Linked DNA regions of Homo sapiens: region 1 is linked to region 2. Evidence: fine-mapped QTL for protein levels in blood plasma. A gene starts in region 2. The other region holds a variant in brackets. All regions are shown on one strand. Distances are between the middles of the regions.

Region 1 (11,985 bases), 52 kb after region 2:
AGCTAGGTATGGTAGCGGGTGCCTGTAATCCTAGCTACTCGGGAGGCTGAGGCAGGAGAATCACTTGAACCTGGGAGGTGGAGGTTGCAGTGAGCTGAGATCGTGCCACTGCGCTCCAGCCTGGGTGACAGAGCTAGACTCCATCTCAAAAAAAAATGTATCTATCTATCTATATATATGGCTTGGAATGAAAATATGGCATGCACATTTTCCCATATCAGAACATGGAGGTCTACCTCATTATTTTTAATTGCTTCACCTTAAGTATTCCATAGATGGGGGTGCCACTGTTTATTCACCCATTCCCACTGGTGGACTGTTAGGTTGCTTCTGATTTTTCATTGTTGTAAATTTGCTTAGTGAACTCTCTGGTATGTGGTTCTGTGGGCAGACATGGCTATTTTGTTAGGATAATGGATATCTAGAAATAGAGTTGGTCAAATGAAGATGGGTATTGTTAATTTTAATAGAAACTGCCAAAATACCTATCAAGAAGACTGAACCAATTCAGGGCACTTCCAAGAGAGGATGAGAAGACCAACTTACGTACACACTCTCTCCCATGCTGGATACTGTCAGTACGTTGAATTTTTGCTAATCCAATGGATGAAGCTAAAACAAATCTTATGTCTATTTTAATTTGTAGTTCTCAAATTATGATTGCATTTCTCTCATGTTGAGCATATTTTCCTAAGTTCATTGGACATTGTGTTTTTATTTCTGTAAGTCACCTCTTCATATACTTTGCCCATTTTATTTTTATTTTTATCTTTGGAGACAAAGTCTCACTCTGTCATGCATGCTAGAATGCAGTGGGCGATCCGGGCTCACTGCAACCCCTGCCTCCCAAGTTCAAGAGCTTCTCCTGCCTCAGCCTCCCGAGTAGCTTGGGTTAAAGGTGCCTGCCACCACACCCAGCTAATTTTTGTATTTTTAGTAGAGACAGGGTTTCGCCATGTTGGCCAGGCTGGTCTTGAACTCCTGACTTTAGGTGATCCACCTGCCTCAGCTTCCCAAAGTGCTGGGATTTCAGGGGTGAGCCACCGTGCCCAGTTGCCTATTTTAAAAACTGGGGTTTCAAAAATATTTTTCTTATTAATGTGTTGGAAATTCTTAATTCTGGTTATTAATATGTGTTGTATTTTGGCTGAGTGCAGTGTCTCATGCTTGTAATCCTAGTACTTTGGGAGGCCGAGGAAGGAGGATTGCTTGAGGCCAGGAGTTTGAGACCAGCCTGGGCAACATGCAAGACTCCCATCTTTACACAATATAAAATAAACAATTTAGCCAAGCATGGTGGCATGTGTGCCTGTAGTCCCAGCTACTCTGGAGACTGAGGTGGGAGGATTGCTTGAGCCCAGGAGTTCGAGGCTGCAGTGAGCTATGATCTTGCCACTGCCCTCCAGCCTGGGTGACAGACCAAACACACACACACACAATTTTATTTTAATTTAATTTCTTTTTCTTTAGAGATGGTGTCTCCTCCTCTTGCCCATGCTGGAGTACAGTGGCATCATCAGGGTTCACTGCAGCCTTGACCTCCTGGGCTAAAGCAATCCTCCCATGTCACCCTTCAAGTAGCGGGGACTACAGTCACGCTGGGCATCTTTCCAGTACACCCTGTGTCATCATATAAATGATCCGTTTCCTTAGCAAGCAACCTCTTCCCAACTACAATGTCCATTGGAGGGCCAGGCACGGTGGCTCACGCCTGTAATCCCAGCACTTTGGGAGGCTGAGGTGGGCAGATCACCTGAGGCTGGGAGTTCGAGACCAGCCTAGCCAATATGGTGAAAGTCCATCTCTACTAAAAATACAAAAAAATTAGATGGGTGTGGTGGCACACGCCTGTAGTCCCAGCTACTCAAGAGGCTGAGGCAGGAGAATCACTTGAACCCAGGAAGTGGAGGTTGCAGTGAGCCGAGATCATGCCACTGCACTCCAGCCTGCACAACAAGAGCGAAACTCCATCTCAAAAATAAAACAAAATAAATATAAAATAAAATAAAATAAAATAAAATAAAATAAAATAAAATAAAATGTCAGCTGGGGGACAGGGACTGTGTCCTCCTCATTTTTGTCTCCCTTGCACCAACACAGAGCCAGCACCCCTGGGTGAATGCGCATACACCTTCCCGTGCCAGGCACATGCCCACACTTCCCTATGCTCAGGCTGGTGTGTGGGGGGGGTGTCTCTGGGTAAGCACGTGCATGACAAGTGTTGAGACTGCACATCGACATAGCCCACATGCTTGCGTCTCAGTGTGGCCATATGCATGCAGCTAGCACACCTGTGCTTGTGGGCATGGGAATACACATGTGTCTGCCTTTCTTCCCTTGACAGTTTTCTGCCCTCTACTTCCTTGGGTCAGAAAAAGCAGGAACTTTTTCTCTTGGCAGGAGGAATATTTATTAACAGGGATAAAGTGAGGATACTGCAATCCTTGTAGTTTCTCCTGGGGAAGCCTCATTCTTTCTGAGGCCTCTGCCCGCCTTCTTTGCTCTCTTCTCCCCTCCTTTTTCTATTTCACATCTTTTTCCTTCCCCACTTCGGGAGGAAGCTCATCTAAGCTCAGCCTTTGCTGACAAGGCCATTTGGGCCCATTAGTTGCCTCTAATGAGTGACTGCCTTCTCGGCCCCTTCCCCCACAGCAACTGGGAGGCAGGGATCAATTAGCTGCTGCCGTAAACACACACACACACACACAAACACACACACACACCCTTACATGTGTATTTATGCTTCCACATGTATATGTACACGTCACATACTATATATGATCATAAATACACTCATAGCAAATACACATACATCTTCTCTTCTTGACCAGTAATATCTCCTAGGGGTCTCTACTCTGCTCCTTGCTCTGTTCACCAAGAAGAACACCCATGGCCAACCCCACACTCCCCAGCTCAAACCCAGATTCCCACGATTCGAAATGAAGTTCAACTCTCATGTTTTACAGGTGGCCAAATTGAAGCTCAGAGTAGGGAGGTGACTTGTCCAAAATCCCTCAGTCAGTTAGAAGCCAAGCTGAGCTTATGCTCAGTCCTATGCCCTCTGATGCCCAGTGCAGTGCTACTGCATCCGAGAGAGAAGCGGGGTGTCCCATGCAGGCCCACCTTGATCACAACAGAGCTGTGGCGCTTCAAAGGTAGCATGTCTAGGTTAGGGTGTGCAGGCATGATCCTTAAGGTGATAGGGACTGGGGAGGCTCTGCCATGAACCAAGGAGGGAGAGGGTGGGCTTTCAGGGAGGCCTGCCTTGTCCCCTGGGTTGGCCTGGCCTGGAAATTGTGGAGAGAGGAGTCCAATCTCAGTCTCCCTCTGGCTTCTGCAAGTCTCACCGTGGCTGTCTCTCCCTCCACCGAGTACTGACCTCAGGAATCCCTGATTCCTGGCAAGCTCCCTCTTGGCCAGATAGGAAGGGGGCACCTCACTGAGTACCCTGTTCCAAAGTGTCCTCTGGGGGAAGATAGGTTCCATCCTGGCCTTGGCCCTGGCCTGTTCTCCAGATTCCACACTAGGACGGGAGGTGTGAGGACTGGGTCCAGGCCTGAGGCACGCAAGACCCAGCAAAGTCCTGCATGACCAGCCTAGGCCACCTGGGTCAGAATGCCGTGGCACCACTGTGGCCAGCCACTTGGAGACATTCGTAACAAATACACATACATCCTCAGCAGCTGGGTTTATGGCTGAGTCTTAGCAATTTTGTCTCCTAAGGTCCCAGCCCTGCCAGGGACCCAGGCCCTGAATGGAAGAGCTGAGGACGGGTCTGAGCGGCCCTTGGGGAAACTTACCCAGGAGGGGTCACAGCAGGGGCAGGGGCTTCCAGAGCCCCCTTTCACCCCAGAAGCTGGAAATGATACTCTTCTTGCCCCCGCTCAGTCCCTCTCCCAGAGGCGGATGTTGTTGGGGGGCTGCAGTTCTCATCTACAGGCCCCTCTTCTCCCTGGGAGCCCCAGACCCCGCCTCCTCTCCCTATCCTGAGTCCCTGGCTGGAGCTACTGTGGAGACTGAGGCCTGTTACCTGCCACTCTCCATAGCCCTCAAGGCCGCAGTGAAGCCTGCCGGGGGCTTGAGGGGGCATCCTGGGAGCCCATCCCTTGGCTGATCTGGGTCTCAGTCAAGTCCCCAGGCCTGCTCCCTGGCCTCCCCCTCAGCAGGGCTTAGCTCAGCAAGTCCTCCCTTAGATTAAGTTTCCAAAGGGAATGTCCTTTTCCAGCGCGGCCCTCGCCCTACCCTGAAAGGCTCAGAGCAGCAGAGTCTTGGCTCTAGGGGTGTTGAGCCAGCAGGTGCCAACAGGGGATGGAGGAGGCAATGGGCCCTGGGGCAAGGGCAGTGGGGGACATGGGCTCCAGGTCGGGAAGACTTGGGCTGAAATCCTAACTTCCATTTAGTACCTGAGTGGCCTTGGAGAGCTATGCCACTTTTTTCCTAGAGAGCTTGTTAAAATACAGTACCGGGCCGGCGCGGTGGCTCACGCCTGTAATCCCAGTATTTTGGGGGCCGAGGCAGGCGGATCACCTGATGTCAGGAGTCCAAGACCAGCCTGGCCAACATGGCGAAACCCCATCTCTACTAAAAGTACAAAAATTAGCCGGGTGTGGTGGCACATGCCTGTAATCCCAGCTACTCGGGAGGCTGAGGCAGGAGAATGGCTTGAACCCTGGAGGCGGAGGTTGCAGTGAGCCAAGATCACACCACTGCACTCCAGCCTGTGGATGGAGCGAGACTCCATCTCAAAAAAAAATAAAAATAAAACGCAGTACCCCACTCTTAAGAGTTTTGTTTTTTTTTTTTTTTTGAGATGGAGTCTTGCTCTTCGACCAGGCTGGAATGCAGTGGCACGATCTCGGCTCACTGCAACCTCTGCCTCCTGAGTTCAAGCAAGTCTCTGCCTCAGCCTCCTGAGTGAGTAGCTGGGATTACAGGTGCCTGCCACCACGCCCGGCTGATTTTTGTATTTTTTAGTAGAGATGGGGTTTCACCATCTTGGCCAGGCTGGTCTTGAACTCCTGACCTCGTGATCCACCTGCCTCAGGCTCCCAAAGTGCTGGAATTACAGGCATAAGCCACCGTGCCCGGCCAGAGATTTCTTAATGTGTAAAATGAGGAGAACAAGGGGTTCTCCACAAAGACTTCCTCGCAAGAATGAGAAGCCATGTATAATCTCTATTACTGTTTACTTACGTGTGCACTGACAATTTTTGGAAGGGCATACCTCCAGAAATGGGAATAACAGGAGGAAGGAGGGAGCCTTTTACTTTTCACTTTATTCTCTTTTGTCCTGTTTTAATTTTACTATGAAGCATGCTTTATTTTTATTTAAAGAAAGGAAGGGAAAGAAAAGAAAAGATGAACCGCTCCCAGCCAAATAGCTGAGCCCCAGTTGAGTCAGTAAACGTAGTCTTAATTGTTATCTGTTAAATAGTTAACAACCCATCCTTCACTGGGCATTGTTTCTGGGTGTGAAAGTGATTTGTAAATAAATTGCTGTATAAATGTTAGTTATGATAAACAACTAGGTAATGATGTATTTCTATGCACAATTATGTATGTGAGGTGGCCTGTCCTAAATATGAGTGGCTGTGTATATCCTTCAGGGGAATTATGCAAATATTGTAAAGCGGTGGTGAAGAGCACGCTGTCAGTAGCCATGCTGCCTGGGTTTGAATCCTGAATTCAGTATCTACTGGAGATATGATCTTGGGCAAGTTACTTAGCCTCTTTGTGTCTCAGTCATTCTGTCTTTAATATGGGGACAATTAGGCCAGGTGTCTCACACCTGTAATCCTAGCACTTTGGGAGGCTGAGGCAGGAGGACAGCTTGAGCCCAGGAGTTTGAGACCAGCCTGGACAAGATAGTGAGACCCCATCTCCACAGAACAAAAATAAATAAATAAATAAAAACAATGGGGATAATTAGCCAGGCATGGTGGGGCACCACTGCACTCCAGTCTGGGTGACAGAGCAAGCTGCCCGCCTCTCTAAAATAAAAAAATAAAAAATAAAAAAATAAAATGGGGATAATACCTACTCCATAGGATTGCTGTGAAGGTTAAAGTGAACTAAGTCATGTAAAACTCTTAGAACATCCCCCAGCACATGGTAGGTGTTCAACAAATGTTTTTTATTTTGTGTATCTACGTGAGCATGTTAATGTTTCTCATCCCTTTAACAGGAGGAGCAGGTGGCCAGACACGGTGGCTCACGCCTGTAACCCCAGTACTTTGGGAATCCAAGTGGGGAGGATCACTTGAAGCCAGGAGTTAATAATAATAATAATAATAATAATAATAATAATAATAATAAAAGGAGGAACATTGTCTGACCCTTCCCCCATTAGAGGGGCTTTGTGGCTCTGTCCATCCTTTCAGTCTGTTTGTAGACACTTAACTTTGGTAACTGCGAGCATCTGGAGTGCTTGAGGAAGCTGGGCTTGCTCAGAGCTCCCATCCTAACAGGGAGCCCTGGGAGTGGAGGAGAGACACACATCTAGCTTGCATCCCACCATCGATGCTTCCAGGACACTTCTGGGGGTGGCAATATACCCATTGTGCCCCTGGGTCACTCAGATAAAATATCAGCTGAGCCAGGAGGGAACCACTGAGGGTGGGGGTGGAGAAAAGTAGGTCACTCTCAGAGGCCATCCAAGAGCCAGGGGCAGGGAGGGGCAAGGCGGGGGCGGGAGCAGTTTATAAGGGAGGCTCTGCAAGCTCAGGTCAGAGAGAGGTGTCATTCCAGCAGCAGTGGCAAGCTTAATTCCCCATCCTCTTCTGCAGGGTCAGCCTGCCCTCCCACCCACCCCACTCCCAGCTCTTGCTGCTTCTGATGCTGCTGGGAGGGCTGTTCCAGTGCATCCCACCTCTGGAGGCACCTCTGGGAGATGCTGGGCTGCCAGGCAGGTTGAGCAGGTTTGAGAGAAGGTGGGAGGGACCCTGACTTGGAGGAGGGACCTGGGCCTGGAATGGAGCCGGGTTCCTCAGGCGCCCAGACAGGTGGCAGCCTGAGGAGGGGTGCAAATGTGCTCAGAGCCAGAGCCCAGCCTGGAGGGAGATGGGGGAGCTAAGACAGGCTGACCTCCACCCCTGGGCTGCACAGCCCCGTTCCCAGTGTAGGCCCTATGTCCCAGAGACCTGCAGAAGTCAGAGATTCTGAATGCAAAACTGGGACATAGGGTCAGGCAAGGGCTTGTGAGACACATGGGATAACGTAATTTAAAATGGGACCTAACCGCTATACCCCCTCCATGGGGCATGAGCACACGCACTGGGAAATCATCACCTGTCGGCTTGTGTGTATTCATCACACAAGCACACACTGTCAAACACATCACCCGCAGGCACGAGTACACAATCATGAACACATAGATACTTGCAGGCACAGACACCACACGGGGATGGTGCTGGAGCCCAGAGTGCTCTCTCTCGCTTTCCAGGTTCAGAAATCAGATCCTGGGAGTTTAAATAGTGTGAC[T/C]AAGGGCCACCTTTGGAGGGTCCCCAAAGAGAGGCCCTCTTCAGGCTTTTCTCTCCTAAGAAGCCACTCCTTTTTTTTTTTTTTTTAAATTTTAGAGCAAACATCAGCCAGAAGCCACTCTTGCCTAATACCCCGCAGCCACGACCTCCGTCCATAAGTCTTTTGTCCCTCTGTGGAGTGGCTGGCCTTCCAATACTGCCACATTTGTGTGCACACCTGAGGTCTGACCCCTTCCAGGACTCCAACTTGGGGGCTCCTGGAGGGCTAACTCCTCCCTGATCAGGGTTTTTCCCCCAGGGACACTGCTTTATTATTTTTTTTTATTTTATTTATTTACTTATTTTGAGACAGAGTCTCGTTCTGTCGCCCAGGCTGGAGTGCAGTGGTGCGATCTCGGCTCACTGCAAGCTCCGCCTCCCGGGTTCACGCCATTCTCCCTCCTCAGCCTCCCGAGTAGCTGGGACTACAGGCGCCCACCACCACACCTGGCTAATTTTTTTGTATTTTTAGTAGAGACAGGGTTTCACCATGTTAGCCATGATGGTCTCGATTTCCTGACCTCGTGATCCGCCCGCCTCGGCCTCCCAAAGTGCTGGGATTACATGCGTGAGCCACCGCGCCCGGCCAGGACACTGCTTTAGAAGGGGGTCAATGAGTTCCAGTGAGGAGGCCAAGAAAGCTGAGGTGGAGGTGGGCAGGAGGGCTGCGGCAGTGAGGAGAGCCTTGATTTGGACAGGCGTCTCACATTGAGGCTGGCCACCCAGATCCACGTGCCTCCTGCACAGAAGCACCTCACCTGGAGGGGTGAGGAGCAGAGAGGAGGAAGAGCACGGGGCAAGTTGGCGAGATGAGCCATATGGGCACATGTAGGGGAAAGTGCAGGCAACAGTATTCCTATGCTATTTTGGGGGTAAATGGATATATGTAATACTTGTCCCCAGATACTCATGCTTATACACACACAGGTTCTCACACACATGAAAACATTCTTAAAGCAGACACACCATACGGACCTGGGATTTCACCCACAGATGCCCACTCTCACCCTGCACCCTCAGCCCCCACGTCGCCCTGCTTCTCACACACACGTGCTCACTCTCACATGCTGGCCAGCTCCCAGCTTCTCTGGCTCAGGCTCTGAACAGAATGTGAATGTGATAAAATCGACAGCTGAAAACTGTCCTGAGAGCAAAGCTGTACTTTGTTGAGAAACCTGAGCCCTTATTGGAGGAATACAAGTGTCTGTGTCTGGGGGCTCGGGGAGAGGGGAGGTCGTGGGGTGGTCCCCCAGGGCGCCTGTGGCCACTGGGCTGTTTCCATCATAAAAAAAAATGATGAAAGGAGCCGGGCAGTGAGAGCATGGCTGTGAGTAAATAAAGCTGCCACCTTTGACCCTGGGAGGCCAGAGCTCATCCCAGAACGAATGCTCATTAGGGAGGGGGTGCTCAGGCCCAGCCCAAGTTCTCCAGCACCGGAGGCCCAAGGCCAGATTCCCAAGGGGGAGGGGATATGAGAACCCCTGTGTGAGGCTAGGGGACATGTAGAGGGAGTAGGGGGTGGAGAAAGGAACAGGGGATGTGGGAGGGGGTTGGGGACATTAGGGAGAGGATGATGGTCATGGGGGAGGGATGAGGACAGGTAGGAGAGCTCTGACTTCTGGCTCCCCCTCCCTGGACTCCTCTCTCTGCAGCCTCTCCAGGTCTCTTCCGCTCTTGGGCTCTGAAACAAGCATACATCTCCCTTCTCCTGCTGTAGGCTCGGTTTGCTTATTTTTCTGATCATCAGGAACTATAGGCAAACAGGGGTTAGCAAAAATAACAAACACAGGGCAAACTACAAAGTCACCAGGAATCCCAGAAAGGTTGAGAAGTGGTTGATTCTGGCTTTGATTCAGAAATAAAAGAATTGGCCAGGCATGGTGGCTCATGCCTATAATCCTAGCACTTTGAGAGGCCGAGGCAGTTGGCCTGCTTGAGCTCAGGAGTTCGAGACCAGCCTGGGCAATGTGGCAAATTGAAGAAAGAAAAAGGAAGGAAGGAAGGAAGGAAGAAAGGGAGGGAGGGAGGGGAGGGAGGGAGGGAAAGAAGGAAAGAAGGAAGGGGAGGGAGGGAAGGAAGGAAAGAAAGAGAGGGAGGGAAGGAAGGAAGGAAGGAGAGGGAGGGAAGGAAGGAGAGAGAAAGAGAAAAAGAAAGAAAGAAGAAAGAAAGAAAAGAAGGAAGGAAGAAAGGAAAGAAAAGAAAAGAAAAGAAAAGAAAGAATTGCCAAACCCACATCCTATGGGTCTGTCCCAAACTCCTTTCCTACAGATCTGTTCAGCTCAGCACCAGACAGTCCTGGCCTGGAGCAAAACTCAATAAAGTTGGCTGCATAGATAAATAAGTGGATACATAGATAAATGCATGGGTGGATGAATGAAAGAAGGGTCTTGGTCATCAACCCCGACTCTGTCTGAGTTCAAACTTCAAGCACTTATGTGGGGCTGGCCTCTCGGTGGGGCCAGGCAGGATCCTCTTCCCCTTCTCTGCAGCTGACCTCTGGGCCCCCCTCCCCCCAGGGCTGACATTTCACTTTATTCTGTAGTCACCTTGGCTCTTACAGGCTCACCTGGTCCAGTCTCAAGAGAAGAAAGCACTTTGCGATGTGGCTCTGAAAGACCCCTGCCCTGCATGTCTCTTCATCCTCTGTGGACCCAGCAGCCACTCCCTTTGTTCCTCCCAGAGGCGACTATGTGGCCACTAAGTAGGTCCTGGAAAGTCCTATTTCGGCTAATTTTAATGAGTGATATAATAATAAAATGTAGCAATAAACTGAGTTTTCACCAAAAAGACAAGACTCCCAGGTTTTTATATCAGGACATAGGGGCAACAGTGACAAGAAACAGATCAGTATACTTCCCACCCCTGCCACCCCATCTGTCCCTGACTTAGAAGGAGGAATAGAAAGAGGAAGTTCAAGAAAAGCATCCCTATTTTTCTGTAAGGGTGAGGTTGCTGGAGGAAGTCCAGCACAAGGACACTCCAGGCAGAACAGAGTTATTGGGAGGCCAGTCCTCGGCTGGGGGGGCTGTCTCTGTCCCGTAAGACATGCCTGCAGCCACATGCCCAGAACTTGGCCTTTCTTTATGCCCCAGACACAATGCTTATTTTCCCTGAATCCCTGAGAGTGACCTGGCTGGGTCTTTGTCCCTGGGGGAAATAGGGAAGCTGAACCCCCAAGTGGGGAGGAGGAATCCAAGGTAGCTGACCCCTGTGTGTTCCCACTGGATGCTTGGTCTGCACCAACGGCCCCCTCCTGGCCAAATTTCTCTTGCTGCATCAGATGAAGGAGAAAACCAGGTGGGTTCAGCTTCAAAAACCAGCCAAAGACCTAGGAGACAGAGGCATCACAGAAGTCAATCACCATTTTCTGCCTCCCCTGTTAGAGTTCCCTCAACTCAACTCCAGCCTGAATCATCGCCAACTTTTCCTAAGTTACTCTGGGACAGACACTATTCTGTGGGCTTTACATGAATTTAACCCTCACAGGAGGTCTATGAAGAGATGCTGTAATTATCCCCAATTCCAGATGAGAAAACTGAGGTCTAGAAAGTCAAGTTACTGGTCCAAGGTCACCCAGTTATTATAATTATGATTATGATTATTATCATTATTATTATTATTATTGAGATGGAGTCTCGCTCTGTCATGAGGCTGGAGTGCAGTGGCGCGATCTCAGCTCCCCGCAACCTCCGCCTCCCGGGTTCAAGCAATTCTCCTGCCTCAGCCTCCCGAGTAGCTAGGACTATAGGCACCTGCCATCACTGAGCCCAGCTAATTTTTTTTATTTTTAGTAGAGATGGGGTTTCATCATGTTGGCCAGGATGGTCTCAATCTCTTGACCTCGTGATCCTCCTGCCTCAGCCTTCCAAAGTGCTAGGATTACAGGTGTGAGCCATGGTCCCAGCCCAGTTTTTATTTTTTTATTTTTATTTTATTTTATTTTTTGAGACAGAGCCTCGCTCTGTCGCCCAGGCTGGAGTGCAGTGGCGCAATCTCGGCTCACTGCAACCTCTGCCTCCTGGGTTCAAGCAATTCTCCTGCCTTAGCCTCTGGAGTAGCTGGGATTACAGGCACACACCACCACACCTGGCTAATTATTGTGTTTTTAGTAGAGACTTGTTGGCCAGGCTGGTCTCAAACTCCTGACCTCAGGTGATCTGCCTGCTTCAGCCTCCCAAAGTTCTAGGATTACAGGCGTGAGCTACCGCTCCCGGCCTTGCCTGGTTTTTAAGTGGAGGATTGGAATTGGCACCCCAGCAATCTGGCTTCTAGGTGGCTGGCAGGTATCTGAGTCTGGTTTGGGGACAGGAAAGCACAGGCTCAGGATCAGATTGGAAGATGAGTGAGTATCCCCAGCTAGCTGCCCTGGAGCTCTGCTGCCAGGACCCCCATTGGACCCACAGCAGGTAGAGGCGCAGCCCTTTCACAAGCAGCACCAAGGTCTCCTCTGTGCTGACAGAAAGGTGCA
Region 2 (11,622 bases):
TGGGTGACAAAGCGAAACTCCGTCTCTAAACAAAACAAAAATGTTAGGCCAGGTGTGGTGGCATGTGCTGGTAATCCCAGCACTTTGGGAGGCTGAGGTGGGAGGATTGCTTGAGCCCAGGAGTTTGAGTTCAGCCTGGGCAACATAGCAAGACTTCGTTTCTACAAATAATTTTTAAAAATTAGCTGGGTGTACTGACAGGCGGCGGTGGTCCCAGGTACTTGGGAGACTGAGGCACAAGGACTGCTTGAGCCCAGAAGGTCAAGGCTGCAGTGAGCTGTGATTGCGCCACTGCACTCCAGTCTGGGAGATGAAGAAAGACCCTTTCTCAAAAAAAAAAAAAAAAAAAGTTGTTGAGGGGAGTGTGACAGCAAGTCAAAAAGTCCCAGGACCCAGGGGATCTTAACCCCCAATTTAGAGCCCTCAAATTCTACACACTTCTTTAGTTCATCAACTTCTATTTAATTCTACTCAACAGATTTCCCATCTGTATCCCCCACACTGGGGGACAGATCCAGCAGGTTTGTTGGGAAGTTCTCCTGATTGCCACTTTTTTGTTTTGTTTTTGGAGACGGGGTCTTGCTTTGTCGCCCAGGCTGGAGTGCAGTGGCACAATCGTGGTTCACTGCAGCCTTGAACTCCTGGGCTCAAGCAATCCTCCCACCTCAGCCTCCCAAGTAGCTGTGACTATAGGTGCAGGCCACCATGCTAAGCTATTTGGGGAGGGGGGTAGAGGCAGGGTATCCTTATGTGCCCAAGGCACCTGGCCTCAAGTGATCCTCTTGCCTTGGCCTCCCAAAGCACTAGGATTACAGGCATGAGCCACTGCTCCTGGTCCTGTGATTGTGACATTTTGCTACCTCTCTTCTTGTATCTTACCCTTGGGGAAAATGATAGAAAAGGCACAAAAAATTCTGGATTTTGGCAGGCTGAGTATGTTGACATGGAATGCTTATGAACTTTTATACATGCACAGCATTCTATGAATCATATTCTGATGCTCTGCTGGGACCTGAGATTCTCCATGTGGTTTGGTTGCTTAAAAGCCAAGTAGTTCCTAGCTAATTAGTCCTTTTTATTTCCCATCAGCCCTGAGAAAGCCCCCACTGTTTCTTGCTTGGAGTTCTGAGCATACACTTGTCAGGCTCTTCCTTAGTTTCAGTGAACTGGTCAGCTGAGGGGAGTCCCAACACTCCACAGAAGCCAACACTAGACTCTGTTATTTCTCAAGTGCAAAGGTTGAAAGTGGGATATCCAGGCCGGGTGCAGTGGCTCATGCTTGTAATCCCAGCACTTTGGAAGGCCGAGGCAGGCAGATCACCTGAGGTCAGGAGTTCGAGACCAGCCTGGCCAACATGGCGAAACCCCATCTCTACTAAAAATACAAAAAAATTAGCCGGGCATGGTGGCAAGTGCCTGTAATCCCAGCTACTCAAGAGGCTGAGGCAGGAGAATTGCTTGAACCCGGGAGGCAGAGCTTGCAGTGAGCCAAGATCGTGCCATTGCACTCCAGCCTGGGTGACAGAGACACTGTCTCAAAAACAGAAGAAGAAGAAGAAAAAAGTGGGATATCCAGTGCTTTGGGAGACCAGGAGTTTAAGATCAGCCTGGGCAACAGAGCCAGACCCTGTCTCTACCAAAAAAAATTATCCAGGTGTGGTGGCATGCACCTGTAGTTCCAGCTACTTGGGAGGCTGAGGCAGGATTGCTTAACGCCAGAAGTTCAAGGCTGCAGTGAGCTATGATCATGCCACTGCACTCCAGCCATGGCCACAGAAAAAGATTCTATCTCTTAAAAAAAAAAAAAAAGGAAGGAAATAAAGTGGGATGTCAGCAAAGATATTGTCACAATGTGGTTTTGGGGTCTAAGATCTCCCCCTGGTCCCTGTGGTCTTGATGGGGCACTCAGGAAGATGGCCTCCTCCCTTTACAGGGGTTGTCTTAATTTTGATTTCCCAGAAAGCAGATCCCAAGGCAAGGATTTTGGTACAAGTAGTTTATTTGGGAGTTTATCCCAGAAAACACAGTGAGGGGGAAGGGAAGTCAGAGAGAGGAGGAAAACCAAATAAAGGATGCATTAATGAGCAGGTTACCACTGAGGACAACTGTGACTCAGTCTCTCTAAGCCTTCTGCAAAACTGTGGAGAACACACCTCAAAATTATCCCACTGAAGGGTAAGGAACAGGATTATCTGTCCTCTATTGTTTTTCCTCACCGGATGTGGCTTGCTCCTGAGTTGTTACCTCCACAGCATTTCCAGCCTGCCCTGCATGTCAGCCAAGCTGACTCTAGGGGCTAAAGAACTCCCTCCGACAGACAGACACACCGGGTCATAAAGGAACTATCTGCAGGTAACCTTTGGAGTGAGCCAAGGGTATATGAGTGAGGTACTGACTGCATCTGCTATGGGGTTTGTGGTCCAGGGTGGTGGCTCCTGGGCCATGTGGTGAATTATTGTTGAGCACATCACCTAAACAGAGTCAATAAAAGGTTTCCCTGAGATGTGATATACTGATACATTTTTCTGGGCGTCCTAAGTATGATGTAGCCGGGAGCTGTTTATGGACTTCTTCCCTGGCTGTGGAAGAAAATACTAGAAGTGGTTGTAGACGAATCCATGGAGTGATGTTCAGGAGAGAGGTTTGGGCCAGAAATAGAAATCTGGAAGTCCGGCAGAAGGAACGAGGATGCTGTGGGGTGTCAGCAGAAAGTTATCTCACTGGCCTCACCTACAGAAAGTTGTCTTCAAGTAAAATTGGATGTAAGGGCAGAAACTTATCTTTCCTTCTGAGTGTGTCATAATGCAAAGTGAACTTCAACCAGTGACCCTGGGACTTTACCCATGTGCACAGCTCCCCCAACAGGTAGACGCACAGTGTGCAAATGTGTGAGAGTGGGTTTTTGTTGTTTTTATAGAGACGGGGTCTTGCTATTTCACTCAGGCTGGACTTGAACTCCTGGACTCAAGTGATCCTCCTGCCTCAGCCTCCTGAGTAGCTGGGACTATAGGCATGTGTCACCGCACCCAGCTGTGTGTGTTTAGCTACCGTAACTAGCTGCCTTTCCTATCACTGACTTTTGATATAATAATTTTAAAGCTACTCATATATTAAATGACATTGTGTTTAGTACTATAGAGTCTACTAGCTTTTCCCTTGGCATCAGTTTTACCCTGTCATACCCCTGAAGACCCATTTACTCACCTCATGGTCACACAACTCTACACATGCAATAAAATTTCAATTATACACACACACGTAATATCAAACCAGTGATATCCAAATAAGGTCCATTGTTTAGCTAATAGTACTGTATAAATTTCAATTTCCTGGTTTTGATAATTATATCATGGTTATATAAGATATTATGTTATCACCAGGGTAGGCTAGGTGACAGGTACATGGGAAATTTCTTTGCTATTTTCACAACTTCTATCCAAGTCTAAAATTCAAAATAAAAGGTTTTTAAAAAAATATCCAAGAGAGGAAATCCTTGCAGAACTGGCCATTTAAAAATTTTAGGCTCTAAAATTTTTACCTAATGGCTAAAATTTAAAAGAACAACAACAATACCAACTCTTGGCAAGGATGTGGCATAATGAAAACTCATCAACTGCTGAAGACTATATAAATTCATACATCACACTGGAAAAAGTGTATGGTAATATCTACTAATGTTGATAATCCCAGCATTTTGGGAGGCTGAGGTGGGAGGATTGCTTAAGCCGAGGAGTTTGGGACTAGCCCAGATAGAGTGAGACCCTGTGAGAAAGAAAAGAAAAAAAAAGAAAGAAAAGAAGGAAAGAAAGAAAAGAAAAGGAAAGAAAGAAAAGGAAGGAAGGAAGGAAGGAAAGGAAGGAAGGAAAGGAGGAAGGAAGGAAGGAAAGAAGGAAGGAAGGAAAAGAAAATCTACTAATGTTGAATATGCATATCACATGAAGCAGTAATTCCAATCCTAGGCATGTCCCAATTTCTATAAATGTCAAAACCAGGTAAACTTAAAGTATAGAGTTAAAGGTGGTTATTGGCCAGGCACAGTGGTTCACATCTATAATCCCAGCAATTTGGGAGGCTGAGGTGGGAGGACTGCTTGAGGTCAGGAGTTCCACACCAGCCTGGATAACATAGTAAGACTTTGTCTCTGCAAAAATAAAAATAAAAAAATTAGCTAGGTGTGGTGGTGTGCCTGTAGTCCCAGCTACTTGGGAGGCTGACGTGGAAGGATCCTTTGAACCCAGGACTTTGAGACTGCAACAAACCATGATCACGCCACTGCACTCTAGCCTGGGCAACAGAGAAAGACCATGTCTCAACAAAAACAAACAAACAAATCAAAAAAACAAACAAAAAAATGGTTATCTAGGGAGAAGAGGAGGGAAAATTATCGGGGAGGGGCATGATGGGGGCTTCTGAGGGTGTTGGCAATGTTCTGTTTCTTGACCTGGATAATCACAAGTGTTCATTTAGTAATAATTAATTTAACCATATATCTACTTTGTGCACTTTTCTGCTTGTCTATTATACTTCATAATGAAATTAAGTTAAAAACAAAATGAGAACAAGAAATGTAGAAAGGGCCAGGCGCGGTGGCTCACGTCTGTAATCCCAGCACTTTGCGAGGCCGAGGTGGGTGGATCACTTAAGGTCAGTTCAAGACCAGCCTGACCAACGTGGTGAAACACTGTCTCTACTAAACATACAAAATTAGCCTAGCATGGTGGTGCATGCCTATAATCCCAGCTACACGGGAGGCTGAGGCAGGAGAATTGCTTGAACGTGGAAAGTGGAGGTTGCAGTGAGCCGAGATTGTGCCATTGCACTCCAGCCTGGGCAACAACAGTGAAACTCTGTCTCAAAAAAAAAAAGAAAGAAAGAAATAGAAATGTAGAAACAATGTACATGTGGAATGATTTAAGCATCTTTTCTAAGTTTATCAATATAACATTTGGCCAAGTCATCAGGTTGGATGGAGCTACAGTCACCATTTCAAGGGTCAATGGGATACTGAAGGTGGGTGTTAGGGGGAGGGATTGCCTTTTGAGATATACGAAGGTAGACTGAGGCCTGATTTAGATGTCCTGAAGCTTATTCAACTTGCCTTAATGCCTAGGTATTCCAGAAAGCCAGTTCCTGGCTATTCCAGTCTTCATTTTGTAACACTACTTATAGCTGAATTATGTTTTCCTTTTTCTTTTCTTTTCTTGTTTTTTTTGAGATGGAGTTTTGCTCTGTCACCTAGGTTGGCGTGGTGGCGCGATCTCGGTTCACTGCAACCTCCGCCTCCTGGGTTCAAGCGATTCTACTGTCTCAGCCTCCCAAGTAGCTGGGATTATACGCATGCGCCACCATAACCAGCTAATTTTTGTATTTTTAATAGAGATGGGGTTTTGCCATGTTGGCCAGGCTGGTCTCGAACTCCTGACCTCAGGTGATCCGCCCACCTTGGTCTCCCAAAGGGCTGGGATTACAGGCATGAACCACTGTGCCCAGCCAATCTTTTTACCTGGCCACCCCAGCTTTGCTACATTTATCTTGACATTCTAATTTACCTATAAAAATAGCCTCTACTAGGAAGCCAAGGTGAGCAGATCACTTGAGGTCAGGAGTTCAAGACCAGCCTGGCCAACATGACAAAACCCTGTCTCTACTTAAAAAAAAAAAAAAAAAAAAAAAAAAATTAGCCAGGTGGCTACTCAGGAGGCTGAGGTAGGAGGATCGCTTGAACCCGGGAGGCCGAGGTTGCAGTGAGCTGAGATTGCGCCACTGTACTCCAGCCTGGGCGATAAAGCTAGACTCTGTCTCAAAAAAAAAAAAAAAAAAAAGGAAAAATAACTTATAAAGCAGTAGTGAGTATTACACTCAACCATTAGCCTCATTCCAAATTCTCTTAGGATGTTTATTGATGATATAGATGATAAATACACATACAGTTGTGATCAGTATCCATATACTTCTTCTTTTCTCTTAACCTTATTTTTCCATACATACTTTTCACTTTGTTTCCTACATACATTATTTTGAGTTTACCTATTTGTCATAGTTGGTAGCTACAAAGTATTCCATTTTAATTATCTATGTTGAGGTTTTTTTTTTAATCAACCAATTCTAATATTCACAGGAAGCACAATTTCTCCATATCCGTCTTTAATAGGTCAGTATGGACCATTTGTTTCATTCCTGCTTCTTCCTCAAAGTTGCAACTCTACTATTTTCACCAGCTGTGTCAAAACAGGGTTTGTGAAGTGACAGGTTGAAATATGTGGATCATTTGAAGTAATTTCTTTTCTTTACCAAATTAAACAATGACTGTATGCCTTGTTTCATCTTTTGTTGTTCATCTGTATAGGGCTCTTTTCACTCTTTTATTTTTAAAATTCTATTTTTTATTTTTATTTTTTGAGAGGGGGTCTTGCTCTGTCACCCAGGCTGGAGTGCAGTGGCGTGATCTGGGCTCACTGCAACCTCTGCCTCCCAGATTCAAGCGATTCTCCTGCCTCAGCCTCCTGAGTAGCTGGGATTACAGGCGTGCACCACCACGCTGGGCTAATTTTTGTATTTTTAGTAGAGACAGGGTTTCACCATATTGACCAGGCTGGTCTCAAGCTCCTGACCTCAGGTGATCCACCCGCCTCCGCCTCCCAAAGTGCTGGGATTAAGAGGTATGAGCCACCACGCCTGGCCCTAAACTTCTATTTTTAAAGAGACATGGTCTCTCGAACCCTTGAGCTCAAGGGATCCTACTGCCTCAGTCTCCCAAGTAGCTGGTGCTACAGGCGTGCACCACCACACTCCAGCTCATCATTCTGTCATTATACTTCAGTTATTTCATGTGTCAGTGACTGAAAGTGAACGTATGATAATCTTGTGAACACAGGGCTTCACAGTGGAAAGAAAACTACATTCTATACCTCATTCCTTCTTCAATACAAGCATCTGCAGGAAAAGGGGAAAAAAGAGGCGGGACCATCTATTATTCAACAAATTTCAACTTCACCCTGCCCATCTGGATCTAGTCTCCCTCATTAAATGCAAAGGATGCTGCCACCTGGCTCCTCTCCCTAGCAGTATTCACATCATCTAGGCTAGAAAATCCCTTCCCTTTGGCCTGTTTTGCACAAAACCGAGTAAACATTTTCAAAGTATATATACGCAAAATCATTTGCTATCTCTTTACTATGTATGATGCGCATAGGTGTTACTGAATATTTTGGAGCCTTGATGGATAAAGTATGGGATGTTGAGGATCGGGGAATGTATCTAAACTTTCAAGTTGTGTCCTATTCAAAAAACTCCCTTCTAAAAGCATTTTTACGGTATGTAGGGTTTTAATGTAACAAAATCTCTACTTAATAACAGCGGATCCCCTTTTATTATCTTTGTGCCTACCTGGATGCACGGTTCCAGCATGTTCTCGTCACGAACCACAAGCCCACCAGAGGGCGCTGGTTCCCCGTCTACCTACTGTTCTCCATCAGCGACTCAGAAAATCCAGGTTAAACACTCAGGCAGTCTTTCACATTTAATCCACAAATATTTACCGAGAATTTGACGTGCCACCAGGCGCGGGGCTAGGTTCACAAGATACAGTAGTGAGTTAGGCACGATTCCTACTACCAGAAGCTTAGAGCATAGGGAAGACTAAAAGTAAGCCACCGTCTACAATAGTAGGATAAGTGGAGAGTTTCTAGGTCCGTGGAGTTTGTTGTTGAATATCTGCTCCAGGCCTTAGAAGCCGGCAGCAATTCACTAAAAGATCCCGGACTTGTCTGCTCTGTATCCCAGCCAAGGAGCTCCGTCCCCAAGGTGTTTTGTTAGAGTCAGAGACCTCTCCTTGGGTGATTCCATTCGTCAGCCCCACAAGTCCCCGTCTCTGGCCTTTTTCAGGGTCTCCGGCAGCTCTCTGACAGTTCCCCTTCTGTCTCAGGTCGACACTTATTCCAAGGACCAGGGATTACTCACAACTATCCGCCAGAGTTTGCTCCGCCCTTTCTTTTTCCTGTTTAAAATCCGCGGGCTCTTAGTGTTCTCGGTTCCTAGATTTCCTGTTCTGATTCTCGCGACAGTTGCGAGGCCTCGCGTGAAGTTCCCTTCTAGTCCCTATTTCGAATTTGAGACCGGGAGAGAGTGTCTGCCCTTGCCCACCTCCTCAGAACCCCTCTGGCCAGGGATGGCGCCTACGTGGCTCGGGAGCCCCTGAATGAATGGGCTTGGCCCAACTTAGGGGCGCATTCCGACGGGAGAGTCCTGGCTGTATTCCGAGGCTCCAGTGCGCATGCGGAGTCGATCCCGCGCAGGCGGGCGGGGACGGCAGCCGGGTCTTGTGGGCGGAGCCTGACTAAGTGCCGCCCCCTTGCCGGCTGCAGATTGCTATTTCTGCCCCCCACCCTCGCCCATCCCCCCGCGAGCTGGACTGCGCCAAGGCTTCTGTGAGCCGCTTGGGGCCGGCCGGGGCGGGGCCTGCCCGACCCGGGTTTGGCTGGCGGGCCCCTAGGAATGCTCTCCTCCCCGCCCCCGGCCCAAAGTGCCACGGTGGCGGTGGTGGCGGCCGCGAGGCCGAGTGTCTCCGGCCCTGCCAGCCTCGCAACCGTAACCTGTAATCCCGACCCGAGGGACGCCCGCCGGGGAGGCGCCAGCCCGCCTCTCCCTGCGGCCGCTGGTCGGCTCCGACCTCGAATCACCCGGCTCACCCGCGGGTCGCAGCACCTGCCGGATGTGGGGAGGAAGAAGGAGGCCAGATGAGGGAAGGCGGATGTAGGCGCCCAGTCTGTCCGCGCCTTGGTGGGGCAGCTGGGTGGGCAAGCCTGCGGTCGCTCCCGGGAACCAGCCCTGGGCTGCGGGGAGACGAAGGTGGTTGGTCCTGCCCTCCAGGAGCGCCCCGACATCGACGTAAAATGACTTGGCACCAGAGCTCCTGCCGCCTCCCCCTTATGCAGCTGCCCTCGCCGACGCCAGGGACTGTAAAATCAGATGGGACAGGGCCTAGCCGTTCAGCCAACACTTTGAGCTTCCCAGCCAAACTCCTACCCCCACTCCCCGCCTCCGGTCCTCACCCCCTTCCTCTCTCCCAGCCTCGGTGTCTGGTTACGGCTCCTCTGCTCGCATTGTGACTTTGGGCCAGGCTGGGGGAAATGACCCGGGAGGGTCCCATGCGGCTACATAAAATTGGCAGCCTTAGAACTAGTGGGAAGGCGGGTGCGCGAAGTCGAGGGGCGGAGAGAGGGGGCCGGAGGAGCTGCTTTCTGAATCCAAGTTCGTGGGCTCTCTCAGAAGTCCTCAGGACGGAGCAGAGGTGGCCGGCGGGCCCGGCTGACTGCGCCTCTGCTTTCTTTCCATAACCTTTTCTTTCGGACTCGAATCACGGCTGCTGCGAAGGGTCTAGTTCCGGACACTAGGTGAGCACTCTGTGCCCCAGGCCATAAGCGAGGCGGCATCAGCCCCCCCAGTTCTCACCCCCCATTAGCAGCTTCTTACTTCTGGAGCCACCCATTCTCTTTGGGCAAGGATGCTCAGGGGCCAGGGATCGGAGTCGGGTGGTGCACGGAAGTGGTGCTGGTGGTGGGTGTGCGTGCGCCTGAGCCTTATCACCCTTTCCTCACCTCTCTTCACTCCCAGCCCTCCCAAGAACAGCCCAACTGATTGCTAACTGCCATAACTGGATAATCCCTAGAGGGTCACTAGGCCTGTGTGTTGGGGGAGGCTACTTGGTAGCAGGGGAGGGGGCGATGCTAGTGTCATGCTTTGGTACAAGAAGCAGTGAGGTTGGTCTTTCGGCACAGGCCCTGTTTCTGACCTCCTGACCTGGCTTCCCTTCCTGGCAGGGTGCCCGAACGCGCTGATGCCCCGAGTGCTCGCAGGGCTTCCCGCTAACCATGCTGCCGCCGCCGCGGCCCGCAGCTGCCTTGGCGCTGCCTGTGCTCCTGCTACTGCTGGTGGTGCTGACGCCGCCCCCGACCGGCGCAAGGCCATCCCCAGGCCCAGATTACCTGCGGCGCGGCTGGATGCGGCTGCTAGCGGAGGGCGAGGGCTGCGCTCCCTGCCGGCCAGAAGAGTGCGCCGCGCCGCGGGGCTGCCTGGCGGGCAGGGTGCGCGACGCGTGCGGCTGCTGCTGGGAATGCGCCAACCTCGAGGGCCAGCTCTGCGACCTGGACCCCAGTGCTCACTTCTACGGGCACTGCGGCGAGCAGCTTGAGTGCCGGCTGGACACAGGCGGCGACCTGAGCCGCGGAGAGGTGCCGGAACCTCTGTGTGCCTGTCGTTCGCAGAGTCCGCTCTGCGGGTCCGACGGTCACACCTACTCCCAGATCTGCCGCCTGCAGGAGGCGGCCCGCGCTCGGCCCGATGCCAACCTCACTGTGGCACACCCGGGGCCCTGCGAATCGGGTACGCATGGCCCGGGGCCCCCACCCCAGCACTTAGGTTTCCTAGAGGCACTGCTCCCCGACCCCTGACAGCATTGGTCTCTGGCCAGCAGAGCAAAAAAGATAAGGCTATAGAGGCCTCGAGTCCAGTATAAAACCCTGCTCTCGCTACTGGTTCATAAAAGCTGCCACCTTAAGGTGGGGGTGGGGGGTGGAGTGGAGTGGGAGTCCCGGGCTTCGTCAGCAAGCTGCATTCGCTGAACCACGTGAAAGCTCCAGAGCTGGCTGGCAGGGAGAGACAGGTCCTCTGAGGGCGCAGGCACATAACCTATGGTTTGCTCAGAGACCCCCCCGACTTTTCCCAGACCAGTGGAGTCCAGGCAGCAAGACGGGTTCCTGTGAGATGCAATCACGTTTCATTCTTAGAGCAGTTTGTTCACCCAGTCTCCCCACCTCTCTGCTTTCTCCTGCTTTTAGGGATTAGTGAAGGGGAGCGGGAAGTTCTTTCTCTATCCCTGGGGACTGGGGTCCATTCAGGCCTCTAGCTTTCCTTGGTAGCTTTAGTAACTTTCACTTCCTGAGCCCGGGCTCTGCGTCTGGCTCGGCTGGGGCAGCCAGAAAACAAACACCCCGTGGGGGTCCCAGCAATTTCCTCCACTCCTGCAGGCTTCCTGCCTGTCGCACAAGTCCAGCTTCAGGTTCTCTGCCTTGCCGCAGGACTCCCCCAGGGGGTACTGAGGAGGGAACGGCTGCTTTTCCTCCTTTGGGAACTGGGCCTGTTTAGAAAAGGGGAAGGGGGATCTGGAAGGTTTTGATTACAGGCACGCAGGAAAGGCTGGGGAGGGTGAAATGAGGACAGGGGAGCAGTTAGGGACAGAGTGGCTGCCAAGCTACAATGTAGATGTGTGTGCTTGTTTGTGCATTGGGTCTGCATGAGGTTCTATGTGCACATGTGCATGTATACCTATCTCCACGTCTGCGTGGTACCCTTGTGTGTACCAGCATCCATATCTGTGTGTACCTGTGTGTGTCACGGTGTGTTTATGGATGTGTATTTACCTCAGCATATATTGTGTTCTGCCACAAGCATGTCCACAAAAATTTGTGTATCATGTCTTTGCCAGACTGGATGCCTTTGCTGGGCCATGCTATTCTCAGACCTCCCGCCTTCACCCCCAGGGCCCCAGATCGTGTCACATCCATATGACACTTGGAATGTGACAGGGCAGGATGTGATCTTTGGCTGTGAAGTGTTTGCCTACCC

Alleles and levels. Positions count from the first base shown, and alleles are read on the strand shown. Strength reflects both the effect of a copy and how common the allele is.
With allele T in place of C in region 1, the plasma level of the protein whose gene starts at base 9,266 in region 2 is lower (weak association).

Evidence for each region. A credible set is the group of variants that fine-mapping cannot tell apart. PIP is the chance, under the fine-mapping model, that this variant and not a neighbour inherited with it causes the effect. Protein levels are from antibody-based Olink assays in UK Biobank. Linkage for the fine-mapping came from a reference panel and not from the study's own genotypes, which makes the PIPs less certain.
Region 1: its variant is the best candidate, but not a certain one, in a credible set for the plasma level of the KAZALD1 protein (UK Biobank, PIP 0.60).

The regions. Positions count from the first base shown.
Region 1 is chr10:101,104,396-101,116,380 of GRCh38, forward strand. The region is part of intron 2 of TLX1NB (TLX1 neighbor); the gene reads right to left. Among named protein-coding and RNA genes, the nearest start is that of TLX1NB, 21 kb to the right of the region's middle. The variant T/C (reference allele first, on the strand shown) is at 7,480.
Region 2 is chr10:101,052,724-101,064,345 of GRCh38, forward strand. KAZALD1 (Kazal type serine peptidase inhibitor domain 1) reads left to right here and starts at 9,266. Exons shown (of 5, transcript NM_030929.5): 1 at 9,266-9,392; 2 at 9,819-10,380; 3 at 11,538-11,622. The coding sequence starts at 9,870. LOC107984262 (a long non-coding RNA gene) reads right to left here and starts at 8,028. Exons shown (of 2, transcript XR_001747569.3): 1 at 7,387-8,028; 2 at 5,872-6,933. RefSeq lists enhancers at 7,909-8,203, 9,130-10,018 and silencers at 8,331-8,750, 9,931-9,980.